Homo sapiens: one gene and its partners. The protein of the gene in region 3 purifies or fractionates together with the protein of the main gene of each other region. This does not show direct contact. Each region holds a gene or a part of one and is shown on either strand. Other genes may lie near its edges.

The links.
Region 1: the proteins of HERC5 (region 3) and FBXW9 purify together in Homo sapiens (affinity purification with mass spectrometry, with the first as the bait; one study listed by BioGRID). This does not show direct contact.
Region 2: the proteins of HERC5 (region 3) and UBE2J2 purify together in Homo sapiens (affinity purification with mass spectrometry, with the first as the bait; one study listed by BioGRID). This does not show direct contact.
Region 4: the proteins of HERC5 (region 3) and UBE2Z purify together in Homo sapiens (affinity purification with mass spectrometry, with the first as the bait; one study listed by BioGRID). This does not show direct contact.

Annotation. Positions count from the first base shown.
Region 1 is NC_000019.10:12,693,832-12,697,939, reverse strand, and holds the start of FBXW9 (F-box/WD repeat-containing protein 9), read left to right. Parts: upstream 1-1,308; 5' UTR 1,309-1,358; coding exon 1,359-1,767; intron 1,768-3,001; coding exon 3,002-3,141; intron 3,142-3,217; coding exon 3,218-3,346; intron 3,347-4,108. UniProt on the Homo sapiens protein: Substrate-recognition component of the SCF (SKP1-CUL1-F-box protein)-type E3 ubiquitin ligase complex.
Region 2 is NC_000001.11:1,256,855-1,260,354, reverse strand, and holds part of UBE2J2 (ubiquitin-conjugating enzyme E2 J2), read left to right. Parts: intron 1-3,044; coding exon 3,045-3,147; intron 3,148-3,224; coding exon 3,225-3,363; intron 3,364-3,500. UniProt on the Homo sapiens protein: Catalyzes the covalent attachment of ubiquitin to other proteins. Seems to function in the selective degradation of misfolded membrane proteins from the endoplasmic reticulum (ERAD).
Region 3 is NC_000004.12:88,504,391-88,506,663, reverse strand, and holds the end of HERC5 (E3 ISG15--protein ligase HERC5), read right to left. Parts: coding exon 2,249-2,273; intron 2,170-2,248; coding exon 2,067-2,169; intron 992-2,066; coding exon 786-991; 3' UTR 501-785; downstream 1-500.
Region 4 is NC_000017.11:48,918,407-48,921,906, forward strand, and holds part of UBE2Z (ubiquitin-conjugating enzyme E2 Z), read left to right. Parts: intron 1-2,753; coding exon 2,754-2,866; intron 2,867-3,500. UniProt on the Homo sapiens protein: Catalyzes the covalent attachment of ubiquitin to other proteins. Specific substrate for UBA6, not charged with ubiquitin by UBE1. May be involved in apoptosis regulation.

The DNA.
Region 1 (4,108 bases), on a different chromosome or scaffold from region 3:
CAGGCTGGTCTTGAACTCCTGACCTCAAGTGATTAACCCACCTTGCCTCTCGAAGTGGTGGGATTACAGGCCTGAGCCACCGCACCCGGCCAACATGCTGTTTTAGTAAGTGTGATGTTAGGCCGGGCGCAGTGGCTCACGCCTGTCATCCCATCACTTCGGGAGGCTGAGGCGGGCGGATCACGAGGTCAGGAGTTTGAGACCAGCCTGGCCAACATAGTGCGACCCCGTCTCTACTGAAAAATACAAAAATTAGCCAGGAGTGGTGGCGCGTGCCTGTATTCCCAGCTACTCTAGAGGCTGAGGCAGGAGAATCGCTTGAACCCGGGAGGCGGAGGTTGCAGCCAGCCGAGATCGCGCCACTGCACACCAGCCTGGGTGACAGAGTGAGACTCCGTCTCAGAAAAAAGAAAAAGGTAGCTTTCCACCAGGCGCGATGGTTCACGCCTGTAATCCTGGTACTTTGGGAGACCAAGTTGGGGGCGGATGGCTTGAGCTCAGGAGTTCCAGACCAGCCTGGACAACGTAGTGAAACCCTGTCTTTACAAAAGAATACAAAAATTAGCCGGGTGTGGTGGTGCGCGCCTGTAGTCCCAGCTACCTGGGGGGCCGAGGTGGAGGATCACTTGAGTCCAGAAAGCGGAGGTTGCAATGAGCCAAGCACTCCGCTTGGAGGACTGAACTGCTGTCCTCCAAGGTTGGGTTGGGGAATGGGGTCTGGAGAGGTAGTTCTGAGGCCCCAGTTCCTTTCTCAAAAAAAAAAAAAAAAAAAAAAAAAGTCACTTAACTGATGCCTCTGCAGTGTAACTGCATATTTCTGGCTCTGGGAAAAGAGGCAAGAGTTCCAATCTCTACTCCTTGAACTCGGAAAGGGGCCTTTGGGTTTCTAAGCTCAGTGTCACATATAACAGATGCCTTCGTTAAAGCAGTGTTTATTTTATGTCTAATTTAAAGAGACAGGGTCTCACTATGTTGCGCAGGTTGGAGTACAGTGGCACAACCATGGCTCACTGCAGTCTCGAACTCCTGGACTCAAGGGATCCTACCCCTTCACCTTCCTGAGTATCTGGAACTACAGGCGCGCGCCACCCCGCCTGGCTTGAGTTTCGTTTTTAGCTAGAGTTGGCTGGCTCTCGGTATCGGCTAGTTTAAAAAGCGCAGAAACAGGAACCTGCATTTTCCAGCCTAAGGCCGACGCAGTTGCAAGAGACCCTGTAAGCGGGGCGATGTTCTGTATTAAGCCAGTGTCTGACTTCGTCGCTTCCGGTGGGCGCATAAACGTCATCAGACAGCGCCGGAAGTGCCCTCGTGCTGCCTAGGAGACAAGACGCGAGGCCGGCAGCGCCCACCCGGTCGCAATGGAGCTTCCCCTAGGGCGGTGCGATGATTCCCGCACCTGGGACGATGACTCGGACCCAGAGTCAGAGACAGACCCAGACGCGCAGGCCAAGGCCTACGTGGCCCGCGTTCTCAGTCCGCCAAAATCCGGGCTGGCGTTCTCGCGCCCCTCGCAGCTATCCACACCCGCCGCGTCCCCGAGCGCTTCGGAGCCTCGGGCCGCGTCCAGGGTTTCGGCCGTAAGTGAGCCGGGCCTTCTGAGCCTTCCCCCGGAGCTGCTGCTCGAGATCTGCTCCTACCTGGACGCCCGCCTCGTGCTCCACGTCCTGTCGCGGGTGTGCCACGCGCTCCGCGACCTCGTGTCTGACCATGTCACCTGGAGGCTACGCGCGCTACGCCGCGTACGCGCGCCCTACCCAGTGGTGGAAGGTGCGCGGGGCCGGGGGCCGGGGACCGGGGGCCGGGGGCGCCCGCCCAGGTCAGGCTTGGGGCGGGGAAGAGGTACATGGGGTGTTCCGGATGCAGCCTCTGGTGCAGGCTTCGTGGCTGTCCTGGCTCAGGCTGGAGGCTAAGGTAGTTACTGGTGGTGCCGAAGCCCCTGAGGACCTCTGGGTGGACCACGAGGCAGTCAGGCACTTGGGGTCCTGAGGCTGTGAAACCCTAACATGGGGCTGTGGTTCCTGGACGACTCAGGATCCAAATATCCTCAGTCTTGGGGTCTTGTGGTACTAAGCCACTGACCCCTGATTGGGGATTGACACAGGGACTTGAAGTCTTAGGCTCTGGAGTTTATGCTGGGGCTCAAAGTGAGCCCAAGGATCCTCAGGTTCTGAGTCCAGCTTAGAAGCTGAGACAGCACCTGTTGATGTCAAAACTCCTGAGCCCTAGAGCCTTGACCCAGTTAGGGGTGAGACAGTGGCTCTTGGCCCTGAGTTGATTGGTTCCTGAGGGAAGACAGCTTGGGACCTTTGAATCGATATTGTTGATCCTGATACAGCTGGATCCTCAGGCCCTTAAGCCAAGATGTATTACAGCTTGGGTGTTTGATACCCTTAACCTGGAAGCTTTGATTCTGCTTAGAGAGGAATCAGGATCACTCCGGGATCAGTGATTCTCAAGGTGTTGCCATCCAACCCCCAGGTCAGACTCTCCCAAACAGCTTAATAAACATAGATGCTTGGACCCCGTCCATATCACAGAATCTGCATCTGGGGCTTGCATTCTGCATCTTGACAAGGCTCCCTGGTTTCCAGATACTGTTTGAGAAACAGCCCCCTTGGTCTGGTTCAGATGGCTGAGGCAGGAAGGGTTAGTCATGAGGTCCCAGCTTCTATGCTGAGCCTGAGGTCAGACCTCAACATCCTGAGACTGCTCTGCCCTGAGTTTGGGTTGGGGGATGGCGCCTGGAGAGGTAGTTCTGAGACCCCAGTTCCCAATTTCTGGAAATTGGAGTGAGTAGTCCTAGACCTGCCTGGGAAATGGGCAGGCAGGTGGTCCCAAGACCACAGCCTGGGTCGGCTTGGGGTGGGAGTAGGGATCTCCATGGGGTTCTGTCCAAGTCTGGTGTAGTGTGGGCTCCCTGGAAGCCAGGGTTGGGCTTGGCCAGCTGGCATGGGTGCTAGGGTCCCTGCCCACTGGGCACCCTACTCGTGGTAACCCACAGAGAAGAACTTTGACTGGCCGGCAGCCTGCATTGCGCTGGAGCAGCACCTGTCCCGCTGGGCAGAGGATGGGCGCTGGGTCGAATACTTCTGCCTGGCCGAAGGCCACGTGGCTTCCGTTGACTCAGTGCTGCTGCTCCAGGTGAGACGGGGTCTGTGGGGGGCCAGGCAGGGTGGGCCAGGGTGGCCCTGACAACATCACCTTGCTCCCTTTCCAGGGTGGGTCACTCTGTCTGTCGGGCTCCCGAGATCGCAACGTCAACTTGTGGGACCTGCGGCAGCTGGGGACGGAGTCCAACCAGGTTCTGATCAAGACCTTAGGCACTAAGCGAAATAGTACCCATGAGGTGAGGAGTCAGGTGGGGATAGGAGGTATGAGGCCTGAGTAGGGCATCTTGGTTAAGGCCCCAGGTTTTGGTACAGGACCGCATAGATTTGAATCTGACTTTTCTAACCTTGGTGTGACTTTGAGTGAGATGTGTGACTTCTCTGTGCCTCAGTTTCTACTTCTGTCCAGTGGGTGATTAGGATGAGGATGAAGGAGATGCATTATGCATTAATGTGGACATGCATTAAGCTCAGGCTTTTTTTTTTTTTTTTTTTGAGACGGAGTCTCGTTCTGTCACCCAGGCTGGAGTGTGGCATGATCTCAGCTCACTGCAACCTCTGCTTCCCGGGTTCAAGCGGTTCTCCTGCCTCAGCCTCCTGAGTAGCTGGGACTACAGGTGCATGCCACCACACCTGTCTAATTTTTTTTTTTTTTTTTTGAGATGGAGTCTCACTCTGTTGCTAGGCTGGAGTGTAGTGATGCAATCTCGGCTCACTGCAACCTCTGCCTCCCAGGTTTAAGCAATTCTCCTGCCTCAGCCTCCTGAGTAGCTAGGACCACCATGCCCAGCTAATTTTTTTATTTTTGGTAGAGACAGGGTTTCACCATGTTGGTCAGGATGGTCTCGATCTCCAGACCTCGTGGTCTGCCCGCCTCAGCCTCCCAAAGTGCTGGGATTACAGGCATGAGTCACCTGGCCTTTATTTATTTATATTTTTATTGAGACAGAGTCTCCCTCTGTCACCCAGGCTGGAATGCAATGGCATGATCTCGGCCCACT
Region 2 (3,500 bases), on a different chromosome or scaffold from region 3:
TAGCACCGAGCTAAACATCGTTCCAGCCTCGCTTTGGCTGTTCCCGCTTCCTCTTTTAAGCAAGCCTGTTTCTTTCACTCACTTTCCAGTTTGGCCTTTCCTTATGATCTCTTGTGTCTTCTGGGTGTCATTCCTGGGCTTCGCCTCTCCCTGGTGGATGTGGCCGCACGCCAGGATGGGTGACAGTGGCACTTGCTCATGCCGTCCCTCCACTGTTGACTCCACCCCTGTTCCTGCGTGTCCTCGAATGCCAGCCCTGAGCAGAGTGCAGAGAGGAAGCTGCAGCGTCCCCCTGCTTGGCCATGTGTGTCTTCAGGGGAGGCAGACAGTGAAGCCGTGTTTTCATTTAGGATCTATGGGAGGGAGAGCAGCCCCTAGTGATCAAGAGAGAGACACGAGGGAAACACGTGCGGGAGGCCACACATGCAGGGAGGCCAGGGAAAGTGGAGAGAGACTGGAACCCCCAGGCCGACCCTTTATTGGGTCCAGGGCGTTCTGCACACAGGTTTCCCTTGGGGAGTTTTAACTGGTGGGTTTAATACAAGCGGGCACGAGCCCCGTGGGGCCACGCTGTGACTGTGGGGGACTCCGTGGTGTGGCTGCACAGTCCATGTGGGGCGTGGGGTCCGTGGGGACATGGGGGGTGGTCACCAGGGGACAGTGCGTAGGGCGGGCGTCTGGGTGGATCAGCTCGAGGAAGGGGGATGTGAACTGAAAATTGTTGCGGGTGGCAGCCCCGCTTCTGGTCAGAGAAAGTCCAGCCTAGATTCAGAGTGGATGCCGAGGCGGCCTAAGATGATGAGCGTTCCTGCAAGATGTAAAGCACTCGAGGGGCAGGGGTGCTGCATCCTACACAGGGTGGGTCTAGAGCAGAAGAGCCCGTGGCGATTTGGGGACTCGCATTGGGGCAGGGCTGTGCACAGGGAGCCCAAGGGAGGACAGAGGCCAGTGCTCCTCAAACCTGATGGCATGCACACGCATACACACGCATGCACGTGTCCTGATGGCACGCACACACATGCCCACGCCCATGCGTCCTGATGGCACGCACGTGCACACGCGTCCTGATGGCATGCACATACACATGCACACACACGTGTCCTGATGGCATGCAGACACGCACATACATGCGTCCTGATGGCATACACACACACATGCACACAAGTGCGTCCTGATGGCATGCACACACTCAGACACGCACACACGCGTCCTGATGGCATGCACACACGTGCGTCCTGATGGCATGCACACACATGCACACACGTGCGTCCTGATGGCATGCACACACACATGCACACACGTGCGTCCTGATGGCATGCACACACTCAGACACGCACACACGCGTCCTGATGGCATGCACACACACGTCAACGCATGCAGGTGTGGCCAGGGAGTCCTGGCTTGTGCACTTGTGGTCCTCTGGTTGGGGTTGGCCCCAAGCTCTGAATTTCCAACCAACTCCAGGTGCAGCCTGGGCAGCCAGCGTGTGGGCCTCGGGCTGGGGCGGGGCTGCCATGAGGCAGCTCATAGAGGGCCTGGGAGCAGGGCCAGGGGAAGCCACACAGGGTGTGCGGCTCTAGATTGATTTGAAGGTGGGGCCAACAGGATTTGCTCATGGAGTGGGTGTGATACCAGGAGGATGGAGTTGCCAAGTTGCCATTTGGTGGAAGTGGCCGGATTTCTGTCCTGGATGGGGGCGTCTGGGCGCTGTGCTGTGGACGGTCAGTGTAGTGGCCTGGAGTGTGCACAGGGCCCGTGGGTGCAGGGTGGGGGAAGTGGCTGAGCAGCCATTGCAGGGCTCCTGATGGGAGGCCGTGAAACTAGGGCGACCCCAGGAGGATGCCAGGACTGAGAGGAGAGCACCCTGTGCTTGGGTGGGCGAAGAGGGGCTGGCTGGAGTGGGAAGAGGGGGTGGGGAGTGGAGGAGCTAGACCAGGGTGGGGCTTTGGAGAGGCGGAGCCAGGAGTGGCCCCTTATAAGGCTATGCCGTTGGGTGGTCAGAAACCAGTGGTATGGCTGGGGGAGGTGGCTCACGCCTATAATCCCAGCACCTTGGGAGGCCGAGGCGGGCGGATCATGAGGTCAGGAGATAGAGACCATCCTGGCTAACACGGTGAAACCCCGTCTCTACTAAAATTAAAAAAAAAATTAGCTGGGTGTGGTGGCGCGCGCCTATAGTCCCAACTACTCAGGAGGCTGAGGCAGAATAATCACTTGAACCTGGGAGGCAGAGGTTGCAGTGAGCCAGGATCGAGCCACTGCACTCCAGCCTGGGCGACAGAGCAAGATTCTGTCTCAAAAAAAAAACAAAACAAAACAAAAAAAAGTGGGAACGTGTGGGTGACCCTGAGGTCGATCTTCAGGTCAGGTTTGGTAGAGCAGGGAGAAAGCCTGGTCAGGTGGATTTGAGAGCTTGGGAGGGGAGGACGTGTGAAGAGCCATGAATGAGGCCCGAATCCAGGGGATCAGGTCAGGGCAGGGGGCATTTGGCAGAACTTGGAGGGGTGTGTGGTGGAGAGTGGTGTGTTTGAGGTGCGTTTTGCTGGCCTTTGGGTGCAGTTGGGTCGGGGAAGCAAACGGTGCTGGAGAGTCGCTGGGTCTGGACCTGAGTCCTGAGAGGGGCGGCCTCAGCTGGGCCTGGAGCTCCTGCTGTGCTGGGGGTGTTGCAAGGAGGCCCTGCATGCCTCTTCCGACCCCTCTGCTCCTGGTGGGGGTGTGTGTGGACACTCCAGGGAGAGGGGTGTGCAGTAGCTGTGGTTGTCTCGAGCTCCCGGGGCAGTGGGGGTCTGGGTCCAGTCGGGTGGTGGGTACAGGTGGGGTGGGGAGGGGCATTGGGTCTGGGTGGTCATGACAGTGGGTGGTAGTGGAGAGCAAGGTCAGTGGGGGACTGAGCCTGGGAGCCGGCTGGGGACGGAGAGTGCAATGAGGACTCGGGAGCCGAGCTGAGGGGGGGGGGGGGGGTGGCGTGGGGGGATGGGGACGAGGTCTCCAGGAGCCCCTGCTGTGGCGGACGACAAGGCCCTTTCTGTTTTGTTTCCATGTAGGTGGCTATTATCATGGAAAACTAATTTTTCCCAGAGAATTTCCTTTCAAACCTCCCAGTATCTATATGATCACTCCCAACGGGAGGTTTAAGTGCAACACCAGGTAAGGTGCCTGGAGGGGCCGCGGAGGCTTTCTGGCTGCGGTGGGGAGTGTGCACTGACGGGGCCCCCGTTTTGCAGGCTGTGTCTTTCTATCACGGATTTCCACCCGGACACGTGGAACCCGGCCTGGTCTGTCTCCACCATCCTGACTGGGCTCCTGAGCTTCATGGTGGAGAAGGGCCCCACCCTGGGCAGTATAGAGACGTCGGACTTCACGGTAAGTTTTAGAGCCTCTCCCTGGTGGGCCGTCAGCCTTGTGTCTGGGGGGCTGTTCTCTGTTCCTGAGTTGCAGCTGCCTTTTTTTTTTTTTTTTTTTTTTTCTTGAGACGGAGTCTCGCTGTGTCTCCAGGCTGG
Region 3 (2,273 bases):
AGCTAACTTTGTAGTTTCTTTTTGGGGCCTAACACACTGTATTTTACATTATCAAAGTGTAATTTACATTTATCACTATGTTAATGAGTATGTACAACATTCTTTTGCTTGGATGCATTTTGTACCTAACTCCATTAAAAGCATAACAGCATTTAAATAAAAAAGCTTCCTCAGAAGCTTCTCCCAATAACTGTCACCACTGCCACCTGTCCCTACCTTGAAGAGAGGCTGGGAAATGTATGATTTTAAGACTGAGAACAATGCCACTCCTACCATATAGGGAATCTGTACTGAAAGAAGGGGAGAACAGATATTGGGTAGATAATTACAAGTTTTTTAAAAAAACTTCTAAGGTAAAGAGTATCCCTTCAGGCCAAGTCATGCAAACATTGTGTGAGAGACACAGCTTAATCTATATTATAATTGATATATCTTACATGCAATGATAGCAATTCCAAAAGAGCTGGTAAACACATTGAATAGTGAATAAGACTTTTATGTTAATTTTTCGGTTATTTTATTTTTGAAAAATATTTCCCAAAAGAGGTAAGGAATATGATGTAGGCATAGGGGTATCCAAGGGAGAGAATACAGTCACGGGTTCTAACCGGCCAGTAAACCCTCTTCTTCATCCCTCTTTCCTGCTTATCACTAGAGACAGAAATGAAAAACCATGGCTTCAGGCTGCTAAAAGCCTAAAACAAAACAAAGTAGAGAAACAACAACAACAACAACAACAACAACGATAACAACAACAAAATAAGGCTGTTGGACAAGCAAGCTGGTCAGCCAAATCCTCTGTTGTTGTTGATGGCTTCTTGAAGCGCTTCTTCAACTGTTTCCATTGTAGAATATTTAGGGAGGAAGAGGACACTGAAACATGTCAGTGCTCTTATAGGGTCTCTTTCATTCCAACTTTCAGGACAGCAAAATGTTATTTTCATATTATTTAAATCTTTCATTTGTAGTCTGTCAGTTCCTGTAAGAAATACTAAAAAGAAGAATAAAATTAGGCAATCTGTTTTACATGGAGACCAAAATCTCTTTACAGAGAAAAAAATCTATTTATTCACAAAACTTCACTGGAGCCCATGTGCAGTGTCCTACATTTGACAGTGCATTGGGGATTGTATTCGAACAATGTCTGACACATAGTCACTGTCCTCAAGCAGCTTAAAGTCTGACTGGGAATATTAGATTCTTGTGAAGAAAAAGACACATAATAGCAAGAGAAAAGCTGTAAGGTATAAGACAGCCCGAAGAGGTGTCATGGAGTTAAGTGCCTCCTGAGTCAATGCTATGCTTGAGAATAAGGAGAGAGAGCCAGGCTGGGATGACTGAGGGGATTTCCAAGAGTTCAGAATTATGCCGGACCTTTAAGGATGGAAAGGTTTAGAAAGGCAACAAGGAGGTAGGTGAGGTTCAAGGCAGGAGAAGGAACTTCACAGAAAGGCCTGGAGGTGGGAAGGTGCAAGGTGAGCTCAGGAGTGTTCAGACAATGGGATTATTTGGTTGGGACAAAAATTTCCTCTAGGAGTTAAGACTGGAAAGGTAGGTTGGGCTTCTATTAAGTCTGAATATCTTCTAACATACATGTTATCCACAAAAATAAAAATAGAAGATAAATATTTCTCAAAAGTAAGGAAATAGAAAATGAGAAAGTCATTAAGCCTAAAGATACAAATAAAATAGCTGTGTACAGTAATAGCAAATATAGTATTAATAATATAGGAACAGTAAAAATTAGCCAAATAAAATATTTTAGTTAATCCCAAAAAGGCTGAATAAGTGAATGATGACAGGGCTACAGAAAGAAGGCTTGATATTTAGCTTGGATGAAGAAACGAAAACTTTAAAAGCAATAAGAAGGGATGAAATCACAGGGGAAAAGATTGCTTATAGATATTAACATTTGTTTTTTGATGTTGGGACACAGAGGATGTTCAGTTGGACTAGGCGTAGCTCTGACACTATGATCTGTTGCAAATGGTACTTATCATAAAGGAAATTTTTATCCCATTAAAAAGACATACGATTACAGATCTATTCCTTGATATAATACTTACCAAGGAATTTTTTCTTTTCTTCCAGAGTCAATTTGTGGAAAGCCTTCCAAAACATCACTATGGTGGGATGTGAACTGTTATATCCTGGTTCATAACGTGCATTCTAGAGAAAATACAAAAAAAAGTTATTGAGGAAATAGGAAGGAAAACTGAATTTAATCAACTTAGACTTGATGATGTACCTTTTCAAATGTTTTCCAATCATAA
Region 4 (3,500 bases), on a different chromosome or scaffold from region 3:
CACTGCAGCCTCCACCTCCCAGGGTCAAGCAATTCTCCTGCCTCAGCCTCCTGAGTAGCTGGGACTACAGGCGCACACCACCACGCCTGGCTAATTTTTGTATTTTTAGTAGAGGTGGCGTTTCACCATGTTGGCCAGCTGGTCTTGAACTCCTGACCTTAGGTGATCAGCCTGCCTCGGCCTCACAAAGTGGTAGGATCACAGGTGTGAGCCACAGAGTCTGGCCTCAAAAGTTAACAAAAATTATTTCCTAACCCATCCTTTCTCCAAACATTCATTTCAGGAGGAGAGTCTAATTGAAATAGACCTCATTAGCAGGAGCTGATTTTTAGGTCTTGTCTTTTTTTTTTTTTTTTTGGAGGCAGACTCTCACTCTGTCACCCAGGCTGGAGTGCAGTGGTGTGATCTCAGCTCACTGCAACCTCTGCCTCCCAGGTTCAAGCGATTCTAGTACCTCAGCCTCCCAAGTAGCTGGGATTACAGGCACACACCATGACGCCTGGCTAATTTTTGTATTTGTAGTAGAGATGGGGTTTCGCCCTGTTGGCCAGGCTTGTCTTGAACATATGGCCTCAAGCAGTCTGCCCACGTCCGCCTCCCAAAGTGCTGGGATTACAGGTGTGAGCCACCATGCCCAGCCTTGTGTTTTTTATTTTTTACTTCCAGAATGACTTGCAGTTGTTTTTATTTTATTTATTTATTTATTTTTTATTTATTTACAGGCACACACCACCACACCCAGCTGATTTTTGTATTTTTAGTAGAGACGGGGTTTCACTGTTTTGGCCAGGCTGGTCTCCACCTCCTGACCTTATGATCCACCTGCCTCGGCCTCCCAAAGTGCTGGGATTACAGGTGTGAGCTACCGCGCCTGGCCCATCAGCTATTTTTATCAGAGGCCAGGGCTCTAATTGACTGGGGTTGGTGGTAAGAGGAGAAGAGCACAGGAAAAATTAAAGGAGTAGAGGCCATACTCCCCTTCTATTCACACCATAGTGAGACCCTGTTTATATTGGCTTTCTAGACCAAAGTTGAAGTTTATCTTTCGAAGCTTCTGATAGATTTATTTCTAATTGTACTATTTCTTTGAGACAAAGTCTTGCTTTGTCACCCAGGCTGGAGTACAGTGGCACAGTCATAGCTCACTGAAGCCTCGAACTCCTGGGCTTTAGCCATCCTCTCACCTCAGCCTTCTGAGTAGCTGGGACGACAGGTGCACACCACCAATGCCCAGCTAATTTTTGTATTTTTTATAGAGACGGGATCTCACCATGTTGCCAATGCTGATCCTGAACTCCTGAACTCAAGCGATCCGCCTGCATCGGCTTCCCAAAGTGTCGGGAGTACAGGCATGAGCCATCGGGCCCAGCCCTACTTCTGATTTATAATAATTGGTTCAATGATGGTGGGACCCTAGAGACATATAACAGGTAAAGGGGTTAACCAGGAAGCATCCTTTACTTGTTGATGCCTGAAGGTTTTCTACACTGAGACTCTTCACTTCATTTATACCTTTTTGTCCCACCATCATTCTTTCTGTCTTTTTTTTTTCTCCCCCTAAAGAGACAAGTGTTTCCCAGCCTGGGCAACGTAGTGAGACCTTGTCTCTACCGAAAAACTTTTTTAAAAAAATAGCTGGGCATTGTGACATGTGCCTTGAGTCCCAGCTACTTGGGAAGCTGAGGAGAGGAGCATCGCTTGAGCCCAGGAATTCGAGGCAGCAGTAACCTCTGATCATGCCACCACTCTCCAGCCTGGATGACAAAGCAAGAGCCTGCCTCTTAAAAATTTTTTAAATAAAAGACAAGCCGGGTGCGGTGGCTCATGCCTGTAATCCCAGCGCTTTGGAAGGCTGAGGCAGGTGGATTACCTGAGGTCAGGCGTTCAGGACCAGCCTGGCCAACGTGGTGAAACACTGTCTCTACTAAAAAATACAAAAACTAGCTGGGCGTGGTGACAGGCGCCTGTAATCCCAGCTACTTGGAAGGCTTGAGACAGGAGAATCGCTTGAACCCAGGAGGCGGAGGTTGCAGTGAGCTGAGATCGTGCCATTGCACTCCAGCCTGGGTGACGAGCAAAACTCAAAAAAACAAATAAATAATAAAAAATAAAAACTCGGGGCCCACCATGGTGACGAATGTCTTTAGTCCCAGCTACTCAGGAGGCTGAGGTGGGAGGATCGCTAGAGCCCAGGAGTTTGAGGATTGCTGGAGCCCAGGAAGTCAAGGCTGCAGTTAGCTGTGATGGTGCCGCTGCACTCCAGCCTGGGCAACAGCAAAGACCCTGTCTCCAAAAAGAAAAACTGAAAAAACAGGAACTTACTTTGTTGTCTAGGCTGAACCCAAACTCTTGGGCTCAAGTGATCCTCACACCTTGGCTTCCTGAGTAGCTGGGACTATTAGTTTATGCCACCAGGCTTAGCAACCCTACCATCATTCTTATGTTTGGTTATTTCCCACATAATCTTTACTTGATAGACCTTTCACTTCACATTCAGGAAAATATGATGGATCTAGTTTGCTGGTGATAGGCCAAATGACCTGTAACCTGTTGGTATATTTGGAGGGTGGTGGAGGTGAATGGTGTCAAAAATAAAGGTGTGGTTGCTCTTCATGGATCTGCCATACAGTGGGAAAGGTATCTTTTTAGTTTGTGTGACTGGCTGACATACCCCATACTAATCTTGAAGTCCCTTCCCATTGGTTTTCTTTTTGCTTAATTTTTGGAATACTCTGGCATCTGTTACATTATAGGAGAGACATCCAGGAGACAGCAAAAACTATAATGAATGTATCCGGCACGAGACCATCAGAGTTGCAGTCTGTGACATGATGGAAGGAAAGTGTCCCTGTCCTGAACCCCTACGGTATGTGTCAAGCGGGCTTGCTTGGTATTCCTTTCGGGCATTTGGGTAGTTGGCATCTTTGGGGCAGAGTACAGTGTTGGGTACCAGAGGGAGATAGAGAAGAAGGAAAGATGTGGTTCCTGCTTTTAAAGAACAAGTGGCTGAGGGTTACCCAAGAGGAAGTTCAGAGAGCTACTCTGTTGTTGGAGAATGCCATGCCTTTGGGAGAGGCAGTCCACACGCTCAGGGAGCTTCCAGTTTGATGAAGGCTTGGACGTACTTTTTTCCAGCCAAATGTGTAGAGTACTTCATAATAAGACTCATTTCTTAGTGCTGAAGTTATTTTTAAGTGCCAAAACTGGATGAGCAACGTCAGGGTTAAATAAATAAACTTCTAGGAGAATTTTGAGTAAGGTTTGGGATTGGGGATGGCTGATGAAAAGCAATGGAGGTGGAGCAAGTCATGAGTTGAAGTTGGGATTCAAATGGTGAGTATTGGCTTGGTGGTGGCTCACGCCTGTAATCCTAGTACTTTGGGAGGCTGAGGCGGGAGGATCACTTGAGCCCAAGAGTTCGAGACCAGCCTGGGCAACACAGGGAGACCCCATCTCTACAGAAATTTTAAAATTAGCCAGGTGTGATGGCACGCTCCTGC